3 separate regions of the Homo sapiens genome follow, and all the other regions are linked to region 3. Evidence: fine-mapped expression QTL. A gene starts in region 3. Each other region holds a variant in brackets. All regions are shown on one strand. Distances are between the middles of the regions.

Evidence for each region.
Region 1: its variant is fine-mapped to the expression of TMEM38A in nasal epithelium (TOPMed, PIP 0.92).
Region 2: its variant is fine-mapped to the expression of TMEM38A in whole blood (TOPMed, PIP above 0.99).

What each region holds. Positions count from the first base shown.
Region 1 is chr19:16,696,098-16,705,908 of GRCh38, forward strand. No RefSeq gene overlaps it. Among named protein-coding and RNA genes, the nearest start is that of NWD1, 19 kb to the right of the region's middle. The variant A/G (reference allele first, on the strand shown) is at 4,163.
Region 2 is chr19:16,683,339-16,693,149 of GRCh38, forward strand. TMEM38A (transmembrane protein 38A) reads left to right here. Exons shown (of 6, transcript NM_024074.4): 5 at 2,950-3,067; 6 at 4,806-6,685. The coding sequence ends at 5,033. Among named protein-coding and RNA genes, the nearest start is that of TMEM38A, 27 kb to the left of the region's middle. The variant C/T (reference allele first, on the strand shown) is at 5,795.
Region 3 is chr19:16,655,966-16,665,776 of GRCh38, forward strand. TMEM38A (transmembrane protein 38A) reads left to right here and starts at 5,174. Exons shown (of 6, transcript NM_024074.4): 1 at 5,174-5,376. The coding sequence starts at 5,253. SMIM7 (small integral membrane protein 7) reads right to left here and starts at 4,179. Exons shown (of 5, transcript NM_024104.4): 1 at 4,120-4,179; 2 at 3,994-4,035; 3 at 3,430-3,482. The coding sequence starts at 4,145. RefSeq lists silencers at 4,772-4,971, 4,992-5,241 and an enhancer at 5,527-6,335.

The sequences.
Region 1 (9,811 bases), 40 kb after region 3:
CCATGCCTGGCTAATTTTTGTATTTTTAGTAGAGATGGAGTTTCACCACGTTGGCCAGGCTGGTCTTAAACTCTTGATCTCAAGTGATCCACCCACCTCAGCCTCCCAAAGTGCTGGGATTACAGGCATGTGAGCCACCCTGCTTGACTGACTATTTTAACTTAATTGTCTCTTTAAAGACCTTATCTCAATCAGTTTGGTGCTAAAAAAATTTAAAAAAAAAAGACCTTATCTCCTGTTTTAGTCCTTTCAGTGTGCTACAACAAAATACTATAAACTGGTGGCTTGTAAACAACAGAAATTTATTTTTCATGGTTCTGGAGGCTGGGAAGTTCAAGATCAAAATGCTGGCAGATTCACTGTCTGGTAAGGGCTGGCTATCTGGTTCACAGATGGTGTCTTCTTTTGGTGTCCCCACATGGTAGAAAGATCAAGGAGTTTCTTGGGGGCCTCTTGTGGAAGGGCACTAATCCCATTATGAGGGCCACATCCTCATGACCTAATCACCTCCCAAGGGCCGCACCTCCTAATACCATCACCTTGGGGCTAATTTTGGACTCAGGTGATCTTCCTACCTTGGTCTCCCAAAACAAAGGGATGTGAGTCTCTGTGTCCAGCGTCCTTTAAGGATGGATTAAATTAAAGTAACTGACAATGCCTGGTGCAGGTAAAGATTTGGGGGCAGCTGGAGCTCGCACACTGCTGGTGGGAGACAATTGGACAGTTTCTTTTAAATTTATTTATTTATGTATTTATTTGAGATAGGGTATCACTCTGTCATCCAGGCTGGAGTCCAGTGGTGCAGTCATAGGTCACTTCAGCCTCGACCTCCTGGGCTCATGTGATCCTCCCGCCTCAGCCGCTTGAGTAGCTGGGACTACAGGCACACATCACCACATCCAGATAATTTTTGTATTTTTTATATAGATGATGTCTCGCCCTGTTGCCCAGGCTGGTCTGAAACTCCTGGGCTCAAGTGATCCTCCTGCCTCAGCCTCCCAAAGTGCTGAGATTACAGGTGTGAGCCACCTTGCCCAGACTGATAGTTTCTTATTAAATTAAACATCACTTACCCTATAAACACAACAATCCCTGATAGTTTCTTATTAAATTAAACATCACTTACCCTATAAACACAACAGTCCCATTGTGGTGAAACAAAAATTCACCTATTTTTTTTTTTTTTGGTAATCACCAAAAACTGGGAACATCCCAAATGTCCATCAGTTGGTAAGCGGATGAGCCACCTGGTTTATGCATGTGATGGAACATTACACAGCAATGAAAAGGAGTGACCTTCTACAGCAGTGTGGTTGAATCTCAAATGCATTTGCTAAATGAAAGAATCCAGACCCAAGAGACTGTGTGCTCCCATTGGCGGGACATTTTATCTTTAGAGATGGGGTATTGCTTTGTCACCCAGGCTGGAGTGCAGTGGCAGGAACATGGATCATTACAGCCTCAAATTCCCAGGCTCAAGGGATCCTCCCGCCTCACCCTCCTGAGTGGCAGGGATTGCAGGTGCGTGCCACATACTCGGCTGTAGGTCATTTTAGAAATACAAAATTTTGGGCTAGGTGCAGTGGCTCACACCTGTAATCCCAGCACTTTGGGAGGCCGAGGTGGGTGGATCATTTGAGGTCAGGAGTTTGAGACCAGCCTGAAACCCTGCCTCTACTAAAAATACAAAAATTAGCTGGGGGTGGCAGGTGCCTGTAGTCCCAGCTACTCAGGAGGCTGAGGCAGGAGAATTGCTTGAACCCAGGAGGCAGAGGTTGCAGTGAGCTGAGATCGTGCACCACTGCACTCCAGCCTGGGTGACAGAGCGAGACTCCGTCTCAAAAAAAAAAAAAAGAAAAGAAAAGGAAAGACAAAATTTTAAGTATAGAAAACAGATCAGTGGCTGCCAGGAGTTGAGATGGAAGGAGAGATTATCCACAAGAGAGACAGAGGAATTTTGGGAGGGAAGGGACTGTTCTGCATTTTTAACGTGGCAGTAGTTACACAACTGTATATGTTTGTATAAACTTGCAGAATTCGCCCGGCAGCGTAGCCCTTTTGGGAGGCTGAGGTGGGAGGATCACCTGAGGCCAGGACTTTGAGACTAGCCTGGGTATCATGGTGAAACCCCATTTCTGCAAAAAATACAAAAATTAGCCGGGCATGGTGGCATGTGCCTGTAGTCCTAGCTACTCAGGAGGCTGATGTGGGAGAATCACTTGAGCCTGGGAGGCAGAGGTTGCAGTGAGCCGAAATTGCACCACTGCACTGCAGCCTGGGCAACAGAGCCAGACCTGTCTCAAAACAACAAACAAAAAAACAAACAACAAACAAAACAAAAAACCCACAAAGAAACACTACAAAAAAAACCTTGCAGAATTTTGTGGCTAAATTCTACCTTAATCTAAAAAGAAAAGGAAAAAGAGAGCAGCCTTTGGGGTTTCCCAAATCTGTTCAAATCCTGTCTTTGTTTTTTTTTTTTTTTTTTTTTTTGACAGATTCTCACTCTGTTGCCCAAGCTGGAGTGCAGTGGTGCCATCTTGGCTCACTGCAACCTCCGCCTCTCGGGTTCAAGTGATTCTCCTGCCACAGCATCCCGTGTAGCTGGGATTGCAGGCAAGAGCCACCATGCCTGGCTAATTTTTGTATTTTTAGTAGAGTCAGGGTTTCAACATGTTGGCCAGGGTGGTCTTGAACTTCTGACCTCAAGTGATCCTACCCGCCTCGGTCTCCCAAAGTGCTGGGATTACAGGTGTTAGCCACCATGCCTGGCCAAACCCTGGCTTTTAATCTCCGAGATACGTAGCTTGGGCAAGTAACTCCCCTTCTCTGAGCCTCAATTTCCTCTTAGGATGGCTAGGAGGAGTGACTGGAAAGTCCTTGGCACAAAGTGAGGTCTGGAGTTGGGACAAAAGCTGCCTCTGTCAAAGTGCTCACAGAACCCCTGGTCGGGTTCATTTAGCATCTGGTGGGTGTTGGAGATAAGTCGGCTCCCTGCCTTCTGGCACTAATGTTCTGAGATCTCATTTTCCAAGAGAACAGATTGTACCAAAATAGCCTCCCAGCCTAGTCTGCGAAGGGGGTGTGCAAGCCACTGGCCAGGTGGAGAATGATTGGCGGGGCAGGCTGGGGCTGTTGTCCCAGTGTGGGTGTGAGAACTTGGAGGATCGGCTCTCAAAGTCCAGGCTAATTTGGCTGCAAGTTACACTCAGTAACTTCCTTGGTCTTGGAATGAGAGAAAGTTTCTTTTTATCCTTTTTAAAAAAAATTGTGGTAAAATACACAACATAAAACTTATCATCTTTTTTTTGTTTGTTTGAGACAGGGTCTTGCTCTATTGCCCAGGCTGAAGTGCAGTGGCACAATCACAGCTCACTGCAGCCTTGACCTCCTGGGCTCAATCCATCCTCCCACCTCAGCCTCCCAAGTAGCTGGGACTACAGGTGTGCACCACCATGCCTGGCTAATTTTTTTGTATTTTTAGTAGACACCGGGTTTCACCATGTTGCCCAGGCTGGTCTCAAGCTCCTGAGCTCAAGCAATCCACCCACCTTGGCTTCTCAAAGTGCTGGGATTACAGGCATGAGCCACCACACATGTCCTAAATTTCTTAGCCACATTTGAGTGTATACTTCAGGGGCATTAAGTATATTCACATTGGCTAGGCATGGTGGCCCATGCCTGTAATCCCAGCACTTTGGGAGGCCAAGGCGGGTGGATCACTTGAGGTCAGGAGTTCAAGACCAGCCTGGCCAATATGGTGAAACCCCATCTCTACTAAAAATACAAAAATTAGCTGGGCGCAGTGGCACGCACTTGTAATCTCAGCTACTCAGGAGGCTGAGGCAGGAGAATCACTTAAACCCAGGAGGCGGAGTTTGCAGTGAGCCCAGACTGTGCCATTGTACTCCAGCCTGGGCAACAGAGCGAGACTCCATCTAAAAAAAAAAAAGTATATTCACATTGTTGTGCAACCACCACCATTACCCAGCTCCAGAAATCTTTTCATCCTGCAAAGGTACCCATTAAACACTCACTCCCCACTTCCCTCTTCCAGCCCTTGGCAGCACCATTGTACTTTGTCTCTCTGAATTTGATGACTCTAGGAACCTCATATAGGTACAATCATACAATACAGGTGCTCTCCGATTTACAAATTACA[A/G]TTTTCTTGAGTTTACAATGTTTCAAAAGAGGCCAGGTGCAGTGGCTCACGCCTGTAATCCCAGCACTTCGGGAGGCCGAGGCGGGTGGATCACCTGAGGTCAGGAGTTTGAGACCAGCCTGGCCAACATGGTGAAACCCTGTCTCTGCTAAAAATACAAAAAAAATTAGCCAGGCATGGTGGTGGGCGCCTGTAATCCCAGGACTTTGGGAGGCCGAGGTGGGCGGATCACCTGAGGTCAGGAGTTTGAGACCAGCCTGGCCAACATGGTGAAACCTGGTCTCTACTAAAAATACAAAAAAATTTGCCAGACGTGGTGGGCACCTGTAATCCCAGCTACTTGGAAGGCTGAGGCAGGAGAATCACTTGAACTGGGGAGGTGGAGGTTGCAGTGAGCCGAGACTGTGCCATTGCACTCTAGCCTGGACGACAGAGCAAGACTCTGAGACTCTGTCTCAAAATAAATAAATAAATAAAATAAAAATAAAAATAAACAAAAAATAAATGTTTCGAAAGAGATTCACATTCAGTAGAAACCATGCTTCAAGTACCCACACCACCATTCTATTTTACTTTCAGGACAGTATTTAATAAATTACATGAGCTATTCAACACTTTATTACAAAATGGGCTTTGCGTTAGTTGATTTTGCCCAAGTGTAGGTTAATGTAAGTTTTCTGACCATGTTTAAGGACAACTAGGTGAAGCTATGATGTTCAGTAGGTTAGGTGTATGGAAATGCCTTTTTTTTTTTTTTTTTTTTTGGAGACAGGTTCTTGCTCTGTCGCCCACGCTGGAGTGGTGCAGTGGTGCGATCTTGGATCACTGCAACCTCTGTCTCCTGGGCTCAGGTGATCCTTCCACTCAGACTCCTGAGTAGCTGGGATTACAGGTGAGCACCACCACGCTGGCTAATTTTTTGTATTTTTAGTAGAGATGGGGTTTCATCATGTTGCCCAGGCTGACCTCGAATTTCTGGATTCAAGTGATCCTCCTGCCTCGGCCTCCCAAACTGTTGGGATTACAGGTGTGAGCCACTGTGGTGCAATTATCCCACACTACAGCTTCAAACTCCTAAGTTCAATTGATCCTCCTGCCTCAGCCTCCCAAGTAGCTGGGACTACAGGTGTACACCACCACACCTGGCTAATTTTTAAATGTTTTGTAGAGATGAGGTCTTGCTATGTTGCCCAGGCTGGTCTTGAACTCCTGGCCTCAAGTGATGCTCCCACTTTGGCCTCCTAAAATGCTGGGATTACAGGTGTGAGCCACCATGCCCAGCCATAAGCAGGTATTTTACATATAATAGATCGTCAAGGTGGTTTGTTACCCTCATTTTGTGGAAAATAAATGAGGCTGGGTGCTAAGGTGAGTGGAGGTCAGTCACCTCTTACTGACAGTGGGTCAGAATTGAAATCCAGTCTTGGTGCAGTAGCTCACGCCTGTAATCCCAGCACTGTGGGAGGCCAAGGCAGGCAGATCACCTAAGTTCAGGAGTTCGAGACCAGCCTGGCCAACATGGCGAAACCCCGTCTCTACTAAAATACAAAAAATCACCCAGACAAGGTGGCACATGCCTGTAATCCCAGCTCCTCGGGAGGCTGAAGCAGGAGAATTGCTTGAGCCTGGGAGGCAGAGGTTGCAATGAGCCGAGATCACGCCACAGCACTCCAGCTTGGGTGACAGAATGAGTGAAACTCCATCTCAAAAAAAAAAAAAAAAAAAAAAAAGAATTGAAATCCAGGCCCATCTCATTCTAAAGCTATGCTTTTTCTTGCACATTTCACTTCTCTGATTCTCTTTAGGAATATGTAAGATACATGCATGGAACAATTCAGCATTATCCTTGACACTGAGCAGGCATCAGCAAATAATACCTAGAGCAGGCATTAGCAAAGGCAAGTTCTTATCCTGCTCTCCTGGTTCCTAGATCATCATCCCTGGTGACCACAGACGTGGGTGGTTATGACTGCGTTTACACTGTGCTTTCCTGTTAGCGCCTGCCTGAAGGCATGTAGGAAAACTCCCAGCTCAATTAGTGGAGGAAATTGAGGCCATTGAAGCCAGCTGAGAGGTGAAAGTGACTGCACAAAGACAGATGTTGGCAGGCCTGAGTGTGAGCTCTGGTTTTGCAACTAACTTGCGTGTGACCTTTGGTGAACCCTTCTTGGCTGATTGAAAATGTTGAACTAGGCCGGCCCGGTGGCTCCCAAAGTCCTGTAATTCCAGCACTTTGGGAGGCCTAGGTGGGCAGATCACTTGAGGTCAGGAGTTCAAGACCAGCCTGGCCAACATGGCAAAACCTCATCTCTACTAAGTACAAAAATTAGCCAGGTGTGGTGGTGGGCACCTGTAATCCCAGCTACTCGGGAGGCTGAGGCAGGAGAATTGCTTGAACCCAGGAGGCGGAGGTTGCAGTGAGCCGAGATCACACCACTGCACTTCAGCCTGGGCAACACAGCGAGACTCTGCCTCAGTTGAAAAAAAAAAAAAGAAAGAAAAATGTTGAACCAGGCAGGTCAAGAGTGTGTAAACCATGGCCCAAGGGCCAAATCTGGCCCCTACTTGTGTTTGTAAATAAAATTTTCTTGGCACGCAGCCATGCTCATTTGTTTACTTATCGCCTATAGAGATTTATTATTATTATTATTATTTTCTTTTTTGAGACGGAGTTTCGCTCTTGTTGCCCAGGCTGGAGTACAGTGGTGTGATCTAGGCTCACTATAACCTCCGCCTCCCAGGTTCAAGTGGTTCTTTTGCCTCAGCCTCCCAAGTAGCTGGGGTTACGGGCACCTGCCACCACGCCCGGCTAATTTTTGTAGTTTTAGTAGAGACGGGGTTTCACCATGTTGACCAGGCTGGTCTCAAACTCCTGACCTCAGGTGATCTGCCCGCCTCGGCATCCCAAAGTGCTGGGATTACAGGCCTGAGCCACTGTGCCTGGTACCTATAGTGGATCTTGTGCTACAACAGCAGAGTTGAGTGATTTCAACAGACCACCTTACCTGCACAGCTGAAAATATTCACTCTCTGGCCCTTTGCAGAAAATGTTGGCCAACCCCTGGACTGGATGATGCTGAAGATCCCTTCTAACTCTAAATATCTGAATTCATAGAGGAAGTGAACATTGCAATTAACTAGGCAAAAACCAAGAGAAATTTATCAAACTCTGAGCTGCACAAATGAGTATCTCACCATCCCGCAAATGTCCATGTTTCCTCAACAGAAACTGACCATGGGGCTGGGTGTGGTAGCTCATGCCTGTAATCCCAGCACTTTGTGAGGCAGAGGAAGGAGGATCACTTGAGGCCAGGAGTTCGGACCAGCCTGGCCAACATGGCGAAACCCCATCTCTATTAAAAATACAAAAATTAGCCAGGCATGGTGGCACGTGCCTGTAATCCCAGCTACTCGAGAGGCAGAGGCACAAGAATTGCTTGAACCTGGGAGGCAGAGGTCACAGTGAGCTGAGATCGTGCCACTGCACTCCAGCCTGAGTGAGACAGTGAGACTCTGTCTCAAAACAAACAAAAACAAAACAAAACAAAAACAACAACAACATTGGTCTGAGGCCAGGCATGGTGGCTCACGCCTATAATCCCAACATTTAGGGAGGATAAGGTGGGTGGATTGCTTGAGCCCCGGAGTTTTTGAGACCAACCTGGGCAATGTAGCAAGACCCCATCTTTACAAATATGAACAAAAATTAGTCTGGCATGCTGGCGTGTGTCTGTGGTCCCAGCTAACTTGGGAGGCTGAGGTGGGAGGGTCTCTTGAGCCTGGGAGGCAGAGGTTGCAGTGACCTGAGATTATGCCACTGCACTCCAGCTTTGGTGTCAACGTGAGACCTTGTTTCAAAAGAAAAAAAAAAGTCTTTGGTCTGTCTTACACTGGGAATGGTTCTACTCATTCATGCCTATAACATGCATTGATCATTTGGAAAATATTAGTTCAATGAGTGATGCAGATGTTGTCCCATTACATTATTTTGTATCAAAAAAGTCCTCTTCATTAATATCACTATTCATCTCATCAGAAAAGTGTGCAGCCGTGCAATCATAGCTCACTGCAGCCTTGACCTCCTGGGCTCAAATGATCCTCCCACCTCAGCCTCCTTGGTAGCTGGGACTGTAGGCGCACATGCCAGCACGCCGGGATAATTTTTTTAAAAAACTTTTTATAGAGACAGGGTTTCACTTTGTTGCCCAGGCTGGTCTCAAACTCCTGACCTCAAGTGATCTTCTCGCCTCAGCTTCCCAAGTAGCTGGGGTTACAGGCTTAGAAAAGTCTTTAAATGTCAAGAAGCTGCCAAACTCACAGTGGTGGCTACACATTTTCCAAAATTCTGATTTCTCCTTAAAAGCTTGAATTTTATTGTGGGCAACAAAACCTGAAATTGTTTTCCTTGAAGTGACAGCCTCATTTTGTTCATTTTTGAGAAAATGTCTGCCAAGCAGCCACATCTGAATCACAGTTTGTCAGACATTTCCAGTAAAAATGGTGTTACCCGAGAAAGGCCACTAGCTTGGCTGTGGAGGCAGCAAACCATCATTCAATCACGTTTTCTAGAGATGACCAAGGACTGAATCCTCAGCAGGGGAATTTTATGTGGACCTCCCGTATTGCTAGTCAGAATATGAAAAAGACATGCCCTCTCCTGTTATGGGGCAAATTGTGTCCCCCCCAAAAGATATGTTGAAGCCAGGCTGGGCACAGTGGCTCACGCCTGTAATCCCAGAACTTTGGGAGGCTTGGAGTGGGGGGGGGGGGGTGGATCACAAGGTCAGGAGTTCGAGACCACACTGGCCAACATGACAAAACCCCGTCTCTACTAAAAAAAATACAAAACTTAGCCAGGCATGGTGGCAGGCACCTGTTATTCAGCTACTTGGGAGGCTGAGGCAGGAGAATTGCTTGAACCTGGGAGGTGGAAGTTGCAGTGAGCCGAGATCGCCCCACTACACTCCAACCTGGGCGACAGAGTAAGACTCTGTCACAAAAACAAAAACAAAACAAAACAAAAACAAAAAACAACTTCCTATTGGGTACTGTGTTCACTATCTGGGTGACGGGATCAATGGAAGCCTAAACCTCAGCATCATGCAATATATTCTTATGACAAACCTGCACATGTACCCCCTGAATCTAAAATAAAAATGGAGGCCGGGCGTGGTGGCTCACGCCTGTAATCCCAGCACTCTGGGAGGCTGAGGCAGGTGAATCACCTGAGATCAGGAGTTCGAGACCAGCCTGGCCAACATGGTGAAACCCCGTCTCTACTAAAAATACAAAAACTAGCTGGGCATGGTGGCAGGCGCCTGTAGTCCCAGCTACTGGGAAGGGAGGCTGAGGCAGGATTATCGCTTGAATCTGGGAGGCAGAGGTTGCAGCAAGCCAAGATCATGGCATTGCACTCCAGCCTGGGCGACAAAAGCAAAACTCCGTCTCGAAAATAAATAAATAAATAAGTAAAATAAAAATGGAAATTTAAAGGAAGAAAGAAATGGTGCTTACTGTCTGTGTCCTCACATGGCGGAATGAGAGAAAGCAGCTCTCTGGGACACTCTCTCTTGTTTTTTGCTGTTTTTGAGAGAGTCTCACTCTGTCCCCTAGGCTGGAGTGCATGAGTGAGATTGTAACTCACAGAAG
Region 2 (9,811 bases), 27 kb after region 3:
TGCACTTTGGGAGGCCAAGCCTGGAGGTTTGCTTGAGTCCAGGAGTTCAAGACAAGACTGGGCAACATAGTGAGACCTATTCTATATTAAAAAAAAAAAGTTAAATTAGCTAGGCATGGTGGGATGCACTTGTGGTCCCAGCTACTCAGGAGGCTGAGGCAAGAGGATTACTTGAGCCCAGGAATTCGAGGCTTCAGTAAGCTAGGATCATGCCACTGTACTCCAGCTTGGGTGGCAGAGCAAGACCTTGTCTCAAAAAAAAAAAAAAAAAAAGGGATCATGCATTTAAATCACCTGGCCCTGGAACCTGGTGAGTGCTTTGGAAATATTAGAGAGAATTATCATCATTAGGCTGGGCACGGTGGCTCACGCCTGTAATCCCAGCACTTTGGGAGGCTGAGGTGGGCAGATCACCTGAGGTCGGCAGTTTGAGACCAGCCTGACCAACATAGAGAAACCCCATTTCTGCTAAAAATACAAAATTAGCTGGGTGTGGTGGTGCATGCCTGTAATCCCAGCTACTTGGGAGGCTGAGGCAGGAGAACCACTTGAATCTGGGAGGCGGAGGTTGCAGTGAGCCGAGATCACGCTATTGCACTCCAGCCTGGGCAGCAAGAGCGAAATTCCATCTCAAAAAAAAAAAATTAACTAGGGGTGGTGGCATGCCTGTAGTCCCAGCTACATGGGAGGCTGAGGCAGGAGAACCGGTTGAACCCGGGAGGCAGAGGTTGCTGTGATCCGAGATCCTGCCACTGCACTTCAGCCTGGGCAATAGAGCAAGACTCTGTCTCAAAGAAAGAAACAGAGAGAGAGAGAGAGAGAGGAAGGAAGGATTATTAAATACATGCAGTGAAGCTGGGCATGGTGGCCCACCCCTGTAATCCCAGCTATTCAGGAAGCTGAGGTAGGGGGATTGCTTGAAACCAGGAATTCAAGACCAGCCTGGGCAACATTACAACATCCCATCTCTAAAAAAAAAAAGAAAAAAAAAATTAGCCAGGTGTGGTGGTGTGTGCCTGTAGTCCCAGCTACTCAGGACGCTGAGGCAGGAAGATCGCTTGGTCTCAGAAGGTTGAAGCTGGAGTGAGCTGTGATCACACAAGTGTACTCCAGCCTGGGCAACAGAGCGAGACCTTGTCTCAAAAAAAAAAAAGCAATGAGAGACAGACATCAGGAATAGAAGTCACAGGTCTGTCTTTTGCAACAAATAAAAATATCTTAAACCTATTTTGCAAGGAAAAAAATAAAAGTTAAGGAAAACTCTGCATGTTGTAATCACATTTTCTGGGGGAAATAAGCTGATGGGGGATCCCCAAGATCATCCTGATGTTCCATGATTTGCTAGAAGGACTCAGAGAACTTAGCAAAGCCATTATATTCAGGGTTATGATTTATTACAGTGACAAGATATAGAATAAAATCAGCAGAGGCAGCTCACACCTGTAATCCCAGCACTGTGGGAGGCCGAGATAGGAGGATTGCTCAAGGCCAGGAGTTCAAGACCAGCCTATGCAATAGAACAAGACTCCATCTCTACAAAAAAAAAAAAAAAACTTAAAAATTAAGCAGGCACAGTGGCACATAACTCTAGCCCTAGCTACTTGGGGGGCTGAGGTGGGAGAATCACTTGAGCCTCAGAGTTTGAAGTTACAGTGAGCCATGATCAGACCACTGCACTCCAGCCTGGGTGATAGAGAGAGACCCTGTCTCTGTAAATAAATAAATAAATAAATAAATAAATAAATAAAACGAAATCAGCAGGGGTTGGCTGGGCGTGGTAGCTCATGCCTGTAATCCCAGCACTTTGGGAGGCTGAGGCGGGTGGATTATTTGAGGTCAGGAGTTCAAAACCAGCCCGGCCGACATGGCGAAACCCCATCTCTAGTAAAAATACAAAAATCAGCTGGCGTGGTGGCGGGCATCTGTAATCCCAGCTACTCGGGAGGCTGAGGCAGGAAAATCACTTGAACCCAGGAGGTGGAGGTTGCAGGGAGCTGAGATCATGCCACTGCATTCCAGCCTGGGTGACAGAATGAGACTCTGACTCATACACAAACAAGAAATCAGCAGGGGCAAAATGTGCATGAGGCAGAGTACAGGAAAGAAAAGGTGAAAATATCCAGTTTTCCTCTCCCAGTGGAATCATGTGGACAGGGCTTCATTCTCCCAGCAGCAATGTGTGACAACATGCATGGTGTACTGCCAACCAGGGAAGCTCTTCTGAGCCTGGGTATCCAGGATTTTTATTGTGGCTCAGAACTAGCTAACCACCTGTGTGGCTGACCTCAGTCTTCAGCCCCTCTAGAGGTCCACCTGATGCTGCATGGCCCAAGACCCCCACCATAAATTACGTTGTTACTACCTGGTGTGGCCCAAGGCCGTCCTCAGGCAAACAAAGACAGTCTTATCAAGGCAGGACACTCCAAGGGCTTAGAGGGCATATTCCAGGAGCTGGACAAAGGCCAGATCTTTCCTTGGACCAGGTTAACCCATCATGCATAGGATGACACCATCTCAACCTGCCACCTTACAATCAGGAGAAGCTGTGGCTGGGCGCAGTGGCTCATGCCTATAATCCCAGCACTTTGGGAGGCCGAGCAGATCACTTGAGGCCAGGAGTTCGAGACCAACCTGGCCAACATGGTGAAACACTGTCTCTCCTAAAAATACAAAAATTAGCCAGGCATGGTGGCATATGCCTGTAATCCCAGCTACTTGGGAGGCTGAGGTGGGAGAAACACTTGAAACAAGGAGGTGGAGGTTGCAGTGAGCCGAGGTTGTGCCACTGCACTCCAGCCTGGGCAACAGAGTGAGATTCCATCTCAAAAGGAAAAGAAAAGAGAGAAGCTGGGATGGGAGCTGGTGCCAGGGCAGGGGGGTGTCTGGGCCAGAGTTATGAAGACTTGAGCCATGCAGGCACCTCCCGGTAATGACAGCTGCTCCCTCCAGCCCCACCAAGGCCAGCCTGTATGGAGCCATCCTCTTCACCCTCCAGCAGACCCGCTGGCTCCCAGTGTCCAAAGCCAGCCTCATCTTCATCTTCACCTTGTTCATGGTGTCCTGTAAGGTAAGCCTTTCTCTTCTTGCAGCATTCTTGCCTTGACCAATGCCACCCTGCCACCTCCAGGTTGGGAGTGGGGAAATTGGACACTCCCAGCCTTATGTGGCTGGGACAGGCAGCCCAGAGAGGGGAGATGCTTGCCAGTAGGTCACTGGGAAGAGAGTTTAAAAGGCAGTGTCCAGCAGCCAGGACACAGATGAGAGGAACAGGCCTTCTGTGTAAAGGACCCAGCCTGAGCCAGGGTCAAGGTGGGCCCACTCTCTTGGGTACAGAGACCAGAGGGACAAGAAGCTGAAATGGCAGCATCAGGTACCCAGGAACTCAGTTGGACCAGGAATACTTCTAGTCTGACAGTCATGCCTTGAGTTGACATCACCCCACCCAGGAGGGGTCTTCAGGGGCTGGGCTCTCTCCCTCTGCATGAAGATCTTAGCTCAGGGCTGTGTCTTCCCTGGGTGAGGACTCCAGGGCTGTCAAAAGGGAGTGAGCATGTCTTCCTGCATTAGGCGAGAAGGGAGAGGCAAGCAGATGGCTGGGATCCTGTCCTGCTATGTTTGTAGCTCTACCCCAGGCCAAATGTCTTAGTCCATTCAGGCTGCTGTATAACAGAATGCAGTACCATAGACTGGGTGGCTTAGAAACAACAGAAATTTATTCCTGGGCAGGCACGGGGGCTCATGCCAACACTTCAGGGGGCCAAGGCAGGCAGATCACTTGAGGCCAGGAGTTCAAGACCAGCCTGGGCAACATGGCGAAACCCCATCTCTCCTAAAAATACAAAAATTAGCCAGGCGTGGGGTCACATGCCTGTAATCCCAGCTACTCGGGAGGCTGAGGCAGGAGAATCGCTTGAACCCGGGAGGTGGAGGTTGCAGTGAGCTAAGATCGCACCACCGCACTCCAGCCTGGGCAACAAATTGAGACTCTGTCTCAAAAACAAACAAACAGGCAAACAAAATACAAATACAAAAATTAACCAGGCGTGGTGGCGCATGCCTGTAATCCCAGCTACTTGGATGGCTGAGGCATGAGAATTGCTTGAACCCAGGAGGTGGAGGCTGCAGTGACCTGAGATCATGCCATTGCACTCCAGTTTGGGCAACAGAGTGAGACCCTGTCTCCAAAAAAAGGAAAAGGAAGAAATGTATTTCTTACAGTTCTGGAGGCTGGGAAGTCCAAGATCAGGGTACTAGCCTGGTCGGGTTCTGGTGAGGGCCCTCTTTACTGGTTGCAGATAGGCAGCATCTCACTGTGTCCTCGCATGGTGGAAGGGACTGGTTAGCTCTCCTGGGCCTCTTTATAAGGGCACTAATGTCTTTCCTGAGGGCTCCACCCTTATGATCTAATTACCCCTCCAAAGGCCTTACCTCCTAATACCATCACCTTTGTGATAGGTTTCAACATATGAATTTGGGAGGACACAGACCTTCAGACCTGCACTTAGCACAGCTTTTCTCTGAGCCCAGGTGTCGTGGGGAATTCTGGGGGATGGGTGACCAGCAGTCTCAGTGTGCTTGGAACTTTCCAGGGGTCAACACTTGAAATCTGGCATCCTGGGAAACCTGAGATGGTCGCCCATCATCCTGGGGGTGCATGCAGCCAGAGGGCTGGGTCTGGGCTACCTCCAACCTTGACTTTGATGACATTCTCTCCCCTCTTCTCCCCACCCTGCCCTCCACTCCTTTGCTTTCTACCTTGGTCTCCCTCTGTCTCTCTTGCTGTCTCCCTGGCCACCCCACCTCAGGTGTTTCTGACAGCCACCCACTCACACAGCTCCCCCTTTGATGCCCTGGAGGGCTACATCTGCCCCGTGCTGTTTGGTTCGGCCTGCGGGGGTGACCATCACCACGACAACCATGGTGGGTCCCACAGCGGTGGTGGGCCAGGAGCTCAGCATTCGGCCATGCCCGCCAAGTCCAAGGAGGAGTTGAGCGAGGGCTCCAGGAAGAAGAAGGCCAAGAAGGCGGATTAGGGGGTGGCCCAAGGGGCACCGGGGAGAGGACCCGGACCCAGGACCCTCTGAGCTGGGAGGCTTCCTGCGCTCAGATCTATCCTTTCCTGGCCTTGACTTCCCCATCTGCAAATCAGGGTCATTGGCTCACCCTCCAGGGCTGATGTGGGGGTTGAGATATGGGGATGAGGATGAAGAACTTTTGTAGAAATCGGGGTTCCCTCTTTCTCTCTGCCAGGACCCCATAGAGTCACAGCTTTTGGAGGGGTTCACAGAATCCTGGCAGCAGCTCCAGTCAAGAATGTCACTGGTTGGCATGATATTCTTAGTTGTATTTTTCCTTCTTTAAAATTGCATCTTGACCAGGCACAGTGGCTCATGCCTATAATCCTAGCACTTTGGGAGGCCGAGGCGGGCAGATCACCTGAGGTCAGGAGTTCAAGACCAGCTTGGCCAACATGGTGAAACCCCATCTCTACCAAAAATACAAAAATTAGCCAGACGTGGTGGTGCACGCCTTTAATCCCAGCTACTCGGGAGGCTGAGGCAGGAGAATCACATGAATCCAGGAGGTGGAGGTTGCAGTGAGCTGAGATCTTCCCACTGCACTCCAGCCTGGCCAATAAGACCTGTCTCCAGCAAGACCCTGTCTCAAAAAAAAAAAAAAAAATTGCATATTGACTCCTGAAGAACTTCAAGCCATGTTGAGATCCATTCATTTGATGGACATTTTCTAAGTACCTGTGAGCCAGGTGCTGCCATTTCAAAGTCTCTTCTTACCA[C/T]GCTCCTCAGTGGCTAGACATTTTCACGTGGCCAGAAAGTCCCGACTCTTGCTGGGCGTCCCTGGACAAGTTGCCTTCCTCCTCTGAGCTTGGCGCTCCCCATCTGTATAGTGGAGACCCTTGGCCCCCCTCTGTACGGAAGGGCCGATGCGAAGCTGCAGTTAAAAAAGGCTCACATGCTCCTAGCCTCGTGCAGTCAGGAGGGGAGACCAGGACAGTTGGAAATTATGATTGCAAATGGCTTTGCATTTTAGATCATTCGTGTGTGTGGATCAGAGAAACGCACAAGTTCCCTGGCACAAAGGAAGCCCTCAGTAGACACGTCTAGGGCAGGCTTGAGAGATCAGATGGCGTGAAAGGCTTGTGATCTGTTCGTCTCAGGCTCCCCCTAAACCAAAGAAATGGAAACAGCTGGTTGGGGTTCCACGATCCAGCTCTATCAAGGGGCTCTGAGTGTGCACAGTTGGGACCTGGATGTATCAGGTCTCCCTCAGGCTGGAGTCCACTGTCACTCATTCAGCCATTGAACAAACATACAGATGCTTACCTGCTCTGTGGTCAGCCTTGTGCTGCTGCTGGGCGGGCCAGGAGCCTGCTTCAGTGTGAGCGAGGTGGATGATATTATAGCTGAAGGGTCCCTCCTGGTCACCCTCATCTCAGCCTAGGTCACCAGGATGTCTGAGAGGGGTGGGTGCATGGGACGGGCGTGGCCAGTCTCAGGTGAGGTTTGGGCCCAGACCTCGTTGGAGTCCCAGACGTTGCCAGGCTGTTGGAAAATTGCCTTGTTCCTGTGATGCCTGGGAGTTAGGTGGGTCCTGGGGAGGTTTCATCCTCTTGCTTGTCCACCTCAGCTCGGTGTGGAGGGGCAGCCAATAAATCATTGTGAATGAACCCTCATGGCTTGTCTGATTTATGCCTGGGATTTTGTTTTTTGTTTTTGTTTTTGTTTGAGACCGAGTCTCACTCTTGCCCAGGCTGGAGTGCAGTGGCCCGATCTTGGCTCCCTGCAACCTCCACCTCCCGGGTTCAAGCAATTCTCCTGCCTCAGCCTCCCGAGTAGCTGGGATAATAGGTGCCCGCCATCACACCTGGCTAATTTTTGTATTTTTAGTAAAAGCGGGGTTTCACCATGTTGCCATGCTGGTCTTGAACTCCTGACCTCAAATGATCCACCCACCTTGGCCTCCCAAAGTGCTGGGATTACAGGTGTGAGCCACTGAGCCCAGCCACATGCCTGGGATTTTGGCCTCAAGATGTGGGGATGGCTGGGCATGGTGGCTCATCCCTGTAATCTCAGCACTTTGGAGGGCTGAAGCGGGCAGATCACCTGAGGTCAGGAGTTCAAGACCAGCCTGGCCAACATGGTGAAACCCTGCCTCTACTAAAACTACAAAAATTAGTCAGGTGTGGTGGCAGGTGCCTGTAATCCCAGCTACTCGGGAGGCTGAAGCAGGAGAATCGCTTGAACCTGGGAGGTGGAGGTTGCGGTGAGCTGAGGTGGAGACATTGCACTCCAGCCTGGACAACAAGAGCAAAACTCATTCTTTAAAAAAAAAAAAAAAAAAAAAAGGCTGGGCATGGTGGCTCACACCTGTAATCCCAGCACTTTGGGAGGCCAAGGCAGGTGGATCACGAGGTCGGTGGATCACGAGTTCAGTAGATCAAGACCATCCTGGCTAACATGGTGAAACCCCATCTCTACTAAAAATACAAAAAATCAGCTGGATGTGGTGGCGGGCGCCTGTAGTCCCAGCTACTTGGGAGGCTGAGGCAGGAGAATGGCGTGAACCTGGGAGGCAGAGCTTGCAGTGAGCGGAGATCGCGCCACAGCACTCCAGCCTGGCAGACAGAGCGAGACTCCATCTCAAAAAAAAAAAAAATGTATACTGTGTACAGTATACATTACATACATTATATGAAATCCTAGAAAAAGCAAACTAATGTATAATTACAGAAAGCTGATCAGTGGGTGCTTGGGGAAAGGCAGGTAGGGTGGGGTGGGCAGGAGGGATTTTGAAGGGGCAAGGGGACATGAGTGATGAGTCTGTTAACTTCTTTGATTGTGTTAGTTTCTCGGGTCTATACACATGTCAGAACCTATTACATTGTACATTGCAAATACACACAGTACCTCATTTGTCAGTGATGCCTCAATAAAGCTGTAAAAAAGAACCCTTCAATTATAAGGGAAAAAAGTGCGAGCTTGGTGGCTCACGCCTGTAATCCCAGCACTTTGGGAGGCTGAGGCAGGAGGATCACTGGAGCCCAGGAGTTGGTGATCAGCCTGCACAACATAGTGAGACTCTGTCTCTACAAAAAAAAATTTAAAAATTAGCCGGGGGTGGTGACTCGTGCCTGTAGGCCCAGGCACTCTGGAGGTTGAGTGGGGAAAATCACTTCAGCCCAGGAGGTTGAGGCTGCAGTGAGCTAAGATTGGGCCACTGCACTTCAGCCTGGGCGGAACAGTGAGACCCTGTCTCAAATAAATAAATAAAATAAGAATAAAGTAGAAAAAAACTCCACACCAAATTGGGCAAAAGAAGCTGGGCATGGTGACTCACACCTGTAGTCCTAGCTACTCTGGAGACCAAGGCAGGAGGATCACTTGAGCCCGTTAGGTGGTGTCCAACCTGGGCAACATAGCAAGACCCTGTCTCAAAAAAAAACTGGGCAAAAGATTTGAATAGACACCACCAAAGAAATTATATGGTTGGCAGATATCATATAAATTGCACATTAAAACCACAAGCATATGCCACTGCATACCTGTTATGAATTGAATTGGGTTCCTCTCAAATTCATTTGTTGAAGTCTTAACCCCTAAGGTATTAGGGGGTGGGACCCTTGGGAGATGATTAGGTCATGAGGGTGGGGCTCTCATAATGGGATTAGTGCCCTTACAGAAGAGGCCCCAAAGAAACACTTTGCTCTTCCTACCATGTGAGGACACAGAGAGAAGACACGTATGAACCAGGAAGCCGGCCCTTACCACACAGTGAATCTGCCAGTATCTTGATCATGAACTTCCCAGCCTCCAGAACTGTGAGAAATAAATTTCCGTTGTTTATAAGCCACCATTTTCTAGTATTTTCTTGTAGCACCCTAAATGGACTAAGACAGGAGATAAGGCCTTTTTTTTTTTTTCTTTTGGAGATGGAGTTTCCCTCTTGTTGCCCAGGCTGGAGTGCAGTGGCGCCATCTCAGCTCACTGCAATCCCTGCCTCCCAGGTTCGATCGATTCTCCTGCCTCAGCCTCTGGGATTACAGGCATGTGCCACCACGCCCAGCTAATTTTTTGTATTTTTAGTAGAGACAGGGTTTCACCATGTTGGCCAGGCTGGTCTGGAACTCCTGACCTCAGGTAATCCACCTGCCTCGGCCTCCCAAAGTGCTGGGATTACAGGGGTGAGCCACCGCACCCGGCCTAATTTTTTTGTAGAGTTGGGGTCTCCCTATGTTACCCAGGCTGGTCTCCAGCTTCTGGCTCAAGTGATCCTCTTGCCTTGGCCTCCCAAAGTGCTGGGATTACAAGCATGAGCCACTGCTCCCCGCCACCTTTTAGAATGGATAAAATAAAAATAACCGACAATATCCAGTGTAGGTAAGGATTTGGGGGCAGCTGGAACTCACACACTGCTGGTGGGAGACAATTGGACAGTTTCTTTTAAGGTTTTTTATGTTTTTAAAATTTTTAATTTTTTACATTTTTTTTTGAGACAGGGTATTGCTCTGTCGCCCAAGCTGGAATGCAGTGGCTCAATCTTGGCTCACTGTAACCTCCGCCTCCTGGGTTCAAGCGATCCTTCCACATCAGCCCCCTGAGTAGCTGGGACTACAGGTGCATGCCACCATGCCTGGCAAAGTTTTGTATTTTTTGTAGAGTCGGAGTCGTGCTCTGTTGCCCACACTGGCCTTGAACTCTTGGGCTCAAGCAATCCTCCTGCCTCAGCCTCCCAAAATGCTGGGATTACAGGCGTGAGCCACCATGCCCAGTCAGATACACATCTTCAGCCATGA
Region 3 (9,811 bases):
ACTAGAAACATTAAATGCTTGGTCTGTTTCCAGGAAGTTTTGAGAGGCGCTGCTCAGCAAGACCCTTCCCCTAGCGAAGGATCGTGAAAACAGGACCTCCCACCATCAACAGATGCCAATCAAACGTTACTCATTCCAGGCCGGGTGCAGTGGCTCACAACTGTAATCCCAGCACTTTGGGAGGCCGAGGCAGGTGGATCACCTGAGGTCGCGAGTTTGAGATCAGCCTGGCTAACATCGTGAAACCACGTTTCTATTAAAACTACAAAACAATTAGCAGGGCGTGGTGGCGCGTGCCTGTAATCCCAAATCCTCGGGAGGCTGAGGCACGAAAATCACTTGAACCCAGGAGGTGGAGGCTGCAGTGAGCTGAGATCACGCCACTGCACGCCTGGGCAACAGAGTGAGACTCTGTCTCAAAAAATAAAAAAAGGTTACTCATTCCAGGCAACAGCAGTATACAGGGGATACAGAAAGAAACAAAGACCGGTGGCTCTGCCCCAACAAGCATATGGGGAGGAGAAATACTAAACAAATATTCACATGTGACTGCTCTGGTGGGAAAGTTTGGGTGTCCTGGGAATACACACTGCAGAGACCCAACATGGCATGTGCATGGGGAAGGGTGGGAGGTAAAAAAAAAGCCTTTCCAGCCGGGTGCCGTCGCTCAAGTCTGTAATCCCAGCACTTTGGGAGGCCAAGGAGGGCAGATCACCTGATGTCAGGAGTTCGAGACCAGCCTGGCCAACATGGCGAAACCCCATCTCTACTAAAAATACAAAAATTAGCTGGGCATGGTGGTGGGTGCCTGTAATCCCAGCTAATAGGGAAGCTGAGGCAGGAGAATTGCTTGAACCCAGGAAGCGGAGATTGCAGGGAGCTGAGATGGTGCCACTGCACTCCAGCCTGGGCAACAGAGAGAGGCTCCATCTCAAAAAAAAAAACAACAAAAAAACAAAAAACAGGCTTTCTGAGGAAGTGCCAGAGCTCCAAGTTCTGACCTCAAACATGGGCAGTTTAACAAATGTGAGCTCAAATCCTGCCTCTGTCCTTCTGCACAGGTGACCTGGTGACCTGGGACCATCCCTGCACTATCTATGTGCATTCCCTCTTGTGTCAATAGGGGTGTCAGGCAGCTAGGAAGACCTTAGCACACTGCCTGGCACGCATGACGCTCTCAACAAATGCAGCCACTATGGTATTACAGTTAAGCCAGGCAAAGAGGATGGAGGGCAAAGAGCAGCTCCCACAGGGGAAGCAGCAGGTGCAGCACCTGGGCTGGAAGGAGACTGGACACAGCAAAGCAGGAAGCTCCTGACAGAGCACTGGTGCCCTGCCTGGCATCCCTGTCACTGATGCTCCTGCCACTTTGTGCCAAATCTCCCGCCCACTGGAGCTCTGATTCGGATCTGTACAGTGCAACTCTAGGGCCTGGTAGTGCCTTCCACGTGGGGGTTAAGTAACACATGGCTGCTGAGTCAATGTATGAATGGATGGATCAATGGATAGACGGACAGATGGTCTAGTGATTGAGTGCACAACCGCTAGAGTCAGAAAAACCCAGGTTCTAATCCTGATTCTCATTGATTCCCTATGTGGCCACAAAAAAGTTGAGCCACATCTCTGACCCTCAGTTTCCTGATCTGTAAAATGGGAAAGTGACCATTATCTTTTAAGAATGGAGGGAGAATGCAACACTAACAGGAAGCACCTAACTGGGTCAGCACCCAAGGGCAGGCCCCCAAAAAGGGGAGCTGCTGGAGTGTCTTCAAAATCTCAGCTCGGCCAGGCGTGGTAGCTCATGCCTGTGATCCCAGCACTTTGGGAGGCTGAGGTGGGAGGATCGTTTGAGACCAAGAGTTGGACACCAGCCTGGTTAACACAGCGAGATACCTATCTCTACAAAAAACATTTAGAAAATTAGCCAGGCGTGGTAGTAAGTGCCTGTAGTCCCAGCTACTTGGGAGCCTGAGGCAAGAGGATCTCTTGAACCCAGGAGCTCAAGGCTGCAGTGAGCTATGACTGTGCCGCTGCACTCCAGCCTGGGCAACAGAGCAAGACCCTGTCTCTAAAAGAAGAAAACCTCTGTTCCTCAGGGTTCCCCCATCCTTGGGCAGTGCTCCATCATGGCATCCACCGCCTTGACTGTGACGCCGCCTCCTCAAATGGCCTTCCCTTCCACACCCCAGCAGGAGGGCAACCCCATCACCATCCTGTGACTCCCTGCCTCTGTCACCTAACGTCACCTCTGTCACTATCTATTCCCTGCTTAGAAACCATGTGTCCCACCCCATGGTAAGTTCCACTCTATCTGTCTTACCCCTGCTGTACCCCAGCACCTAGCACAGTAGCCAGCATGCGTTAGGTACTCAAATATCTGGTGAATGAAAGAATTAATGAATGGATACAATAGTCATGTACAGATCCCCTTAAGACTCCAAATAGTTACACAATCAAATTCAGCAGGAAGTGTAAATTCTGGGGCCTCCAGGGCCCAGGCAGATGATAGACATATGAAGGGGTTAGGGCTGGGATGAGGCAGAGTCTACAGGCCCCACCTCCTCAGAGTCCTTCTCAACTACACTCAATAGATGCAAACAGCTCTCCTGAATCTTGAGTTGCAGAATGTTCCAATTTTTCAAGAAAAATCAGACATCTTAATTTTTATATAAAATCTCCTGATTAAAAATCTAATGTTGGCATCTAATTTTAAAAGTGGCAGGTCTGCAGCACTCTGAAAGCAACAGCTATGTGTGAGGTTGTTCATTCATTCATTCACAGGCATCGGAGGACGGGTACGGCAAGAACAAAGGATGGGACAAGCCAAGCTAGGGCCTCTTCTCTGAAGTTTACAGTCATATGTGAGGGGCAGACATTAGCCAGATGACAGCAAACATAACAGAACATTATAACGGTAGGAAGTGATGTGAGTGCTCACATCAGGGAGGTCTGGTAGGAGAAAGAAATAGATGACAGAGGTAGGCAGAAAGGCTAGCACATTCTCAGTCATCTCCCACTCACACACACGCTCAATTAAAGAGAAAACTTGTGGCTCACGCCTGTAATCCCAGCTCTTCGGGAGGCCAAGGCAGGGATCACTTGAACCCAGGAGTTCGAGACCGGCCTGGGCAACGTGGAGAAACCCCATCTCTACAAAAAATACAAAATTTAGCCTGGCATGGTGGCACACACCTGTAATCCCAGCTACTAAGGGGGCTGAGGTGGAAGGATCACTTTAGCTCAGGAGGTCGAGTCTGCAGTGAGCCATGATCGCACCACTGCACTCCAACCTGGACAACAGAGCAAGACCTTGTGTCAAAAAAAAAAAAAAAAAAAAAAGAGAAAGAAAGAAAACGAAGGTAGGGCTTGGCGAAACAGAACTGTCCTCTGAAGTGGACCATGCAATTCCAGGATCCAATTAGACCTTACCTGTGCTGGGCTCCCTGGACTCCTCCCCAAAGCCCTGCGTGTCCTTCTTTTTCCTACAAAGAGGAGCAGACAGTGTCCACTTTCAATGGGACATAGAGTCCTCAGCCCCCTGACCCCCAGCTCAGAAGGCCACAAACACTAAGTTTCAGCCCTGGCCCTGCCGCAAACTTGCTGTGTGACCTCTGACGTTCAATACCCTTCTCTGGGCCCCCACTGCCCGGACAATCACAGCCAGGTCAGCAGCCACCGACCGTTTACAAAGTGGCCCGACAGTGCGGGTGCAGGGCGGAAGGTCCGCGGTGGGGCTATTTCTTGGGGGATGGGGCTTAAGCTCTCCAGGAAGGTGAACAGAGGGACAACCAAGGAACGGAGAGTATGGGTTTAAGGTCTCTCGGGGGGTGGGGGGCGAGGAAGATAAACCAGGCTGGAGGCGTGCCCAGAGGGCGGATAGGGCGGGGCCTGCGGCTTGGGGGCGGGGCCTGAGAAGTGCGCCGAGATCACGCTTATGAGGGCGGGGCTACGGGTTCCCCGGATGGAGCCGCAGTCCGGCCGCGACCTACTCACAGCTTAAAGTTCAGCACCGCCCCGGCATTCATCAGCAACGTCCTGCAGAGGGAGAATTACAGTTACTAGGGGCGCCCCCGCGTCCTGCCTGGCTCTCTCTTCCCAGCCTCTGGTCCCCCTAATTACCCGAACAGCAGGATGTCTCCGATCATCGTTACGGCCGAAGCGTCCGTCAGAACCGGAAGCGGAAGCCCCAGGGAGGGAGGGGAGAGGAGCACAAGCCGACCAATCCTAAAGCAACAGTGGCGAGGGCTGGGCCAATCGAAGGTCAAGGCTGGGAGGGTCCCGCCCTCTGCAGGCCAGACCCCCTTAGGGGAGCGCGAGCGCCCCACCTCGCTGGGGAGGCCCCGAGAGCCAGAATGGGAGGAGCGGGGTCTCCTGGGGGCGGGATTGGGTCACGCGTTCGAAGCGTGCCGCGCATGCGTGAGGTCTCGATGCCGTAGGGTTAGCTGGGCAGCAATTCCTACTCACTTTCTGGGGTCCCAAATTGGGCTTCTGGACAAAAGGAATCCTTTGACTCCTGAGCTGCACAGGGTGCGGGGTCCTGACGCAGTGGGGTCCCTAGAAACGGGTGCCCCAACCAACTGGGCTCTAAAATGAGATCCTCCTGGGCCCCATGGGGAACGGGGGTTCCCACTGAGCTGCCCCCCACAAGACGTCCTGATTTGCAGAGCCCCACCGGAGACGGGGTTCCTGATCGAACGGACCCTATGGGGCAGAAAAGTCTTGACGGGGCTCCACAGAGGACCGAGGTCCTAACCTATCTCCACGGGGAACAGGGGTTCTGATTCATGGGGTCCCACCATGGCGTAGGGGTCCTCACTGGGCTCCACCGAAGATCGGGGTCCTAATTGAGCCCACGGGGACAAAGTCCTGGCCGATCCGGCCCCCTGGGAACGGGCGTCCCGCGTGGGTGGGCTCCGTGAGGGACGGGCCCCCAGAACAGGCAGCTCCCCAGCCTCCCTCGCCTTGCACGGGTGCCCCGCACCCCGCCTCGCTGGGCGGAACGGGGTAGCGATGGCAGGAGGGTCAACGCCTGGGACGCCCGACCGTCCAGCTGCGTCCGTGGTGCTGGGCGTCCCCACCACCTGTCCCGGGGTGGGCCGTCGCCCCTCCTCTCCCGCGGGGGCCGGGCCTGGGGTGGCGCCTGGCGGGCGGGGGCGGGCCCAGCTGCGGGGGCGCAGTCGCCGGGCCGCGGGCGGCGGGACGGACGAGGCCGGGGCCCCGGGTGGCACCCGGCAGGCGGGCAGGCGGGCGCCATGGAGCTGCTCTCGGCGCTGAGCCTGGGCGAACTGGCGCTCAGCTTCTCGCGGGTGCCGCTCTTCCCCGTCTTCGACCTCAGTTACTTCATCGTCTCCATCCTCTACCTCAAGTATGAGCCAGGTGAGCCGGGGCGGGGGGCTGGAGGGGACCGGCAGCGGGTGGCGCGGGCCGGGGCAGCTCGGGGGTCGCAGAGAGGGGAAGCCCGTGCGTGGTGGAGGGAGCGAGGGACAGGTTCAAGGATTGCATCGTGGGAGTAGGCAGGCGCTAGAATCGTGGGGTTCTCTCACGCCGGGGTGAGCCCGGGGGAGAAGCCCCCAGGACGATGAAGCTGGGGGAGGGGAAGGAGAGGCGTGCGCGGGTTTAGAGGAGGGGGAACAGGTGCTTGGGGTCGGGGCTCCTGGTTGGGTCAGAGCTGCAGGAACTTGGGCAAGGGGCGCCGGCTGTGGCGAGGGTGCAGGTGGGGGTCGGTGCATCTGTTCTGGCCGCGCGCAGGTGTGACCTCCCTCCTTGACCTTGGCACGCGGATTGAGAGCGCCAGCGGAGTGTCTATAAGGGCCACTGCGCTGGGGGCTGCGGTCAGGTTCAGCGAAAGTGACACCGGTTCTCCTCCCCACTGCAACTGCCCAGCACCCTCCACTCCCCTCCCTTCCCCCACGGTGCTGAATCTCCGAGCCCCCACGGGAATTCTTCCAGCCCTGGCTCCAGATCCTTTCCACTTACGGAGCAGAACCGGCCCCAAGGCTGGGTGACTTGGGGTCAGTGTCCTCCATCTCAGCTCCAGACTCCACGCTGGGGAGGTCACAGGAGGGTACAGCCTGCTTCTTAATTTTTAAAATGAGGATGAATGGCTTCCTTAGAACGTGTTCTATTTTTATAAAAGGTTCACCGTGAACAAATGTTTAAATGTTTCTTGTTCACCGTTATTCTAGAACACCAGCAACTTACTAGATAATAGATTTTAGGCTTAGAAAAATAAAGGAACCCCAAACTTCATAAGCCTTTCTCCCACTTAGATGTAAATTACCACTATAGCTCAGAAAGGAAATAGCTTTATTCTCAGAGGATAAAAATAAGCGCCCCTGTTTACTAAAAACTCAAACTGAAAAGGGCAAAGGAAAAAAAGAGAATTACTGTCAACATACTGGTGGCCAGCCACCTTTCTTGATGTCTCTTCTATTCATTTACGGCTATATAGTTATAAACGTAAATGCACGCTTTTTTTTTTTTTTTTTTTTTTGCGGTTTTTTTTTTAGATGGAGTTTCGCTCTGTCGCCCAGGCTGGAGTGCAGTGGCGTGATCTCGGCTCACTGCAACCTCCACCTTCCAGGTTCAAGCGATTCTCCTGCCTCAGCCTTCTGAGTAGCTGGGACTACAGGCACCCGCCACTACACTTGGCTAATTTTTGTATTTTTAGTAGAGACAAGCCTTCACCATGTTGGCCAGGATAGTCTCGATCTCCTGACCTTGTGATCCACCCACCTAGGCCTCCCAAAGTGCTGGGATTACAGACGTGAGCCACTGCACCCAGCCAATGCACGCTCTTATGCTAACAGGATTACACTCTATTTGCTAGGAATTTTTATTCTATTTTTGCCTATCCACATGCCAGAGCCTATTTTCTTAAAAGCTATCCTGGAGAACATTACTTTGCAAAACAAAATAGGCTTTTGTGTTGTCCTAGCATGAACATGGGGCTATCTTTCCTTTCTGGGGAAGAATTCTTGGTGGTTCAGGCCAGTTCCTTGGGCAGTTGCAGAACCTTAGAAAATCTGAAACTGGCTGGGCACAGTGGCTCACGCCTGTAATCCCAGCACTTTGGGAGGCCAAGACGGGCAGATCGCCTGAGGTCAGGAGTTCGAGACCAGCCTGGCCAACATGGAGAAACCCCGTCTCTACTGAAAATAAAAAAATTAGCCAGGCATGGTGGCACATGCTTGTAATCCTAGCTGCTTGGGAGGCTGAGGCAGGAGAATCACTTGAACCTGGGAGGCGGAGGTTGCAGTGAGCCGAGATCACGCCATTGCACTCCAGCCTGGGCGACAGAGCAAGACTCTGTCTCGAAAAAAAAAAAAATCTGAAACTGAGGAGGGTTGGAGCCCTGTGGGAATGTAGGACACAAATGTCTTGAGAAAAGAGGTCTCCAAGCTGCCTGGGAACTTGCAGGAAGGTTCAAGATATTTCTGCAGAAGTCCTAGAATAAGCCATCCAGGCTCTAAGTGCCAGAGCCTGAAGGTTCCTGAAGGCTGAGAAGTGGTTCCAAACCCTGGCTATTCATGAATTCATGAGACGCTCCTGGGAGCTTTTTTTCTTTTCTTTTTTTTTTTTGAAACGGAGTCTCGCTCTGTCGCCCAGGCTGGAGTGCGGTGGCGCCGCCTCTGCTCACTGCAAGCTCCGCCTCCTGGGTTCACACCATTCTCCTGCCTCAGCCTCCCAAGTAGCTGGGACTACAGGCGCCCACCACCATGCCCGGCTAATTTTTTTTTTTTTTGTATTTTTAGTAGAGACAGGGTTTCACCGTATTAGCCAGGATGGTCTCGATTTCCTGACCTTGTGATCCGCCTGCCTCGGCCTCCCAAAGTGCTGGGATTACAGGTGTGAGCCACTGCGCCCGGCCTCCTAGGAGCTTTTAAACCCCCTATCTCCACCCCCCACCAATTGAATCAGAATATTAATCTCCCCTCCCTCAGTGACTGATGTCTGTTATCAGGGCTGAGGATACTCCACCCAGTTCAACCTCCTCCTTTCATAACTGGGGAAACAGGAAATAGTGGCTAAGCTATCTTAAATACACAATGAGCCTGTGGTCCCATGGCTGGTCAGTTGCAGCCTCGGGACTCAGCCCAGGTCTGCTTGACTCTAAGAATCAGTACAATTGATGTGAGATTGGTTTCCTTAGAAAAGAAAGGTGTTGGAGGCCAGATGTGATGGCTTATGCCTGTAATCCCAGCACTTTGGGAGGCGAGGCGGGTGGATCACTTGAGCCCAGGACTTTGAAACCAGCCTGGGCAACATGACAAAACCCCGTCTCCACTACAAATGCAAAAAAATAGCCAGGTGTGGTGGCGCACGCCTGTAATCCCAGGTACTTGGGAGGCTGAGACATGAGAATAGCTTGAATCCAGGAGACGGAGGTTGCAGTGAGCCGAAATCTCGCTGCTGCACTCCAGCCTGGGTGACAGAGCCTGGCTGAGACTCTGTCTTGGAAAAAAGAAAGAAAGAAAAGAAAAGTGAGGTGTCGGATTGAACTGTTAGTCCCAGTTTGGTGTGCGTGCTGGGTATCTGTAAATTTTCTTCTCAGAATTTGTGTGCTGGACCAGCTACAGAATTTGCCAGGCCGATACAAAGTATCAGTGTGGGGCCTTTTGTTCAGAAATTAAGAATTTCATAGCCAGGCATGGTGGTGTGTGTCTGTGGTCCCAGCTACTTGGGAAGCTGAGGCTGGAGGATCACTTGAGCCCAGGAGTTGGAGCTCAACTGCGCCTGGCTGGGTCAGGCTTTCTTGAGAATCCTGAGAATGGATGAAGCTCAGAGTGTGGTCCTCAACAGAGCAGCATCAATGTTGCCTGGGAGCTGCAGCGAGCTATGATCACCCCACCGCCCTCCAGCCTGGGCAACAGAGCAAGACCGTGTCTCCTAAAAAAATAATAATAATAATAAAAAAAGAATGTCAGCATAGGTCAGATAATCTCAGCATTTGGGGAGGTCAAGGTTGGAAGATTGCTTGAGGCCAGGAGTTCATGGCCAGCCTGGGCAACATTGTGAAACCCCTTCTCTATAAAAAATACAAAAATGGCTAGGCGCGGTGTCTCATGCCTGTAATCCGAGCACTTTGGGAGGCTGAGGTGGGCAGATCACCTGAGGTCGGGAGTTCAAGACCAGCCTGACCTACATGGAGAAACCCTGTCTCTACTAAAAATACAAAATTAGCCGGACGTGGTGGCACATGCCTGTAATCCCAGCTACTAGGGAGGCTGAGGCAGGAGAATCGCTTGAACCTGGGAGGCAGAGGTTGCGGTGAGCCAAGATTGTGCCATTCCACTCCAGCCTGGGCAACAAGAATGAAACTCCGTCTCAATAAACAAATAAATAAAAATTAAAAAATGCAAAATACAAAAATATTAGCCAGGTGTGGTGGCATGTGCCTGTAGTCCTAGCTACTAGGGAAGCTGAGGTCGGAGGATTACCTGAACCCTGCAAGGTGGAGGCTGCAGTGAGCCATGATCGTGCCACTGCACTCCAGCCTGGGCAACAGAGTGAGACCCTGTCTCAAAAAAAAAAGAAAAAAGAAACTAAACGTCTCTGAATCATGGGAGTCAGTTCTACCACTAGCACTGAGTAAACACCACAATGGTTATTTCACCACCATGAGCTTCAGTTTATTTGTCTGTGAAATGGGATCATTGGTAAGAGAACCCCAGACTCCCTTTCCTAGCGATTGTAAAGATCTATTGAGAATTTTGTCAGGGATAAGGTCTAAGGCATTTGTGAGGGGTGGTGATGTTTATTTGGAAGTCTAGGGAGGAATATATTACTTGGGATACTGGCATTTTCTGGG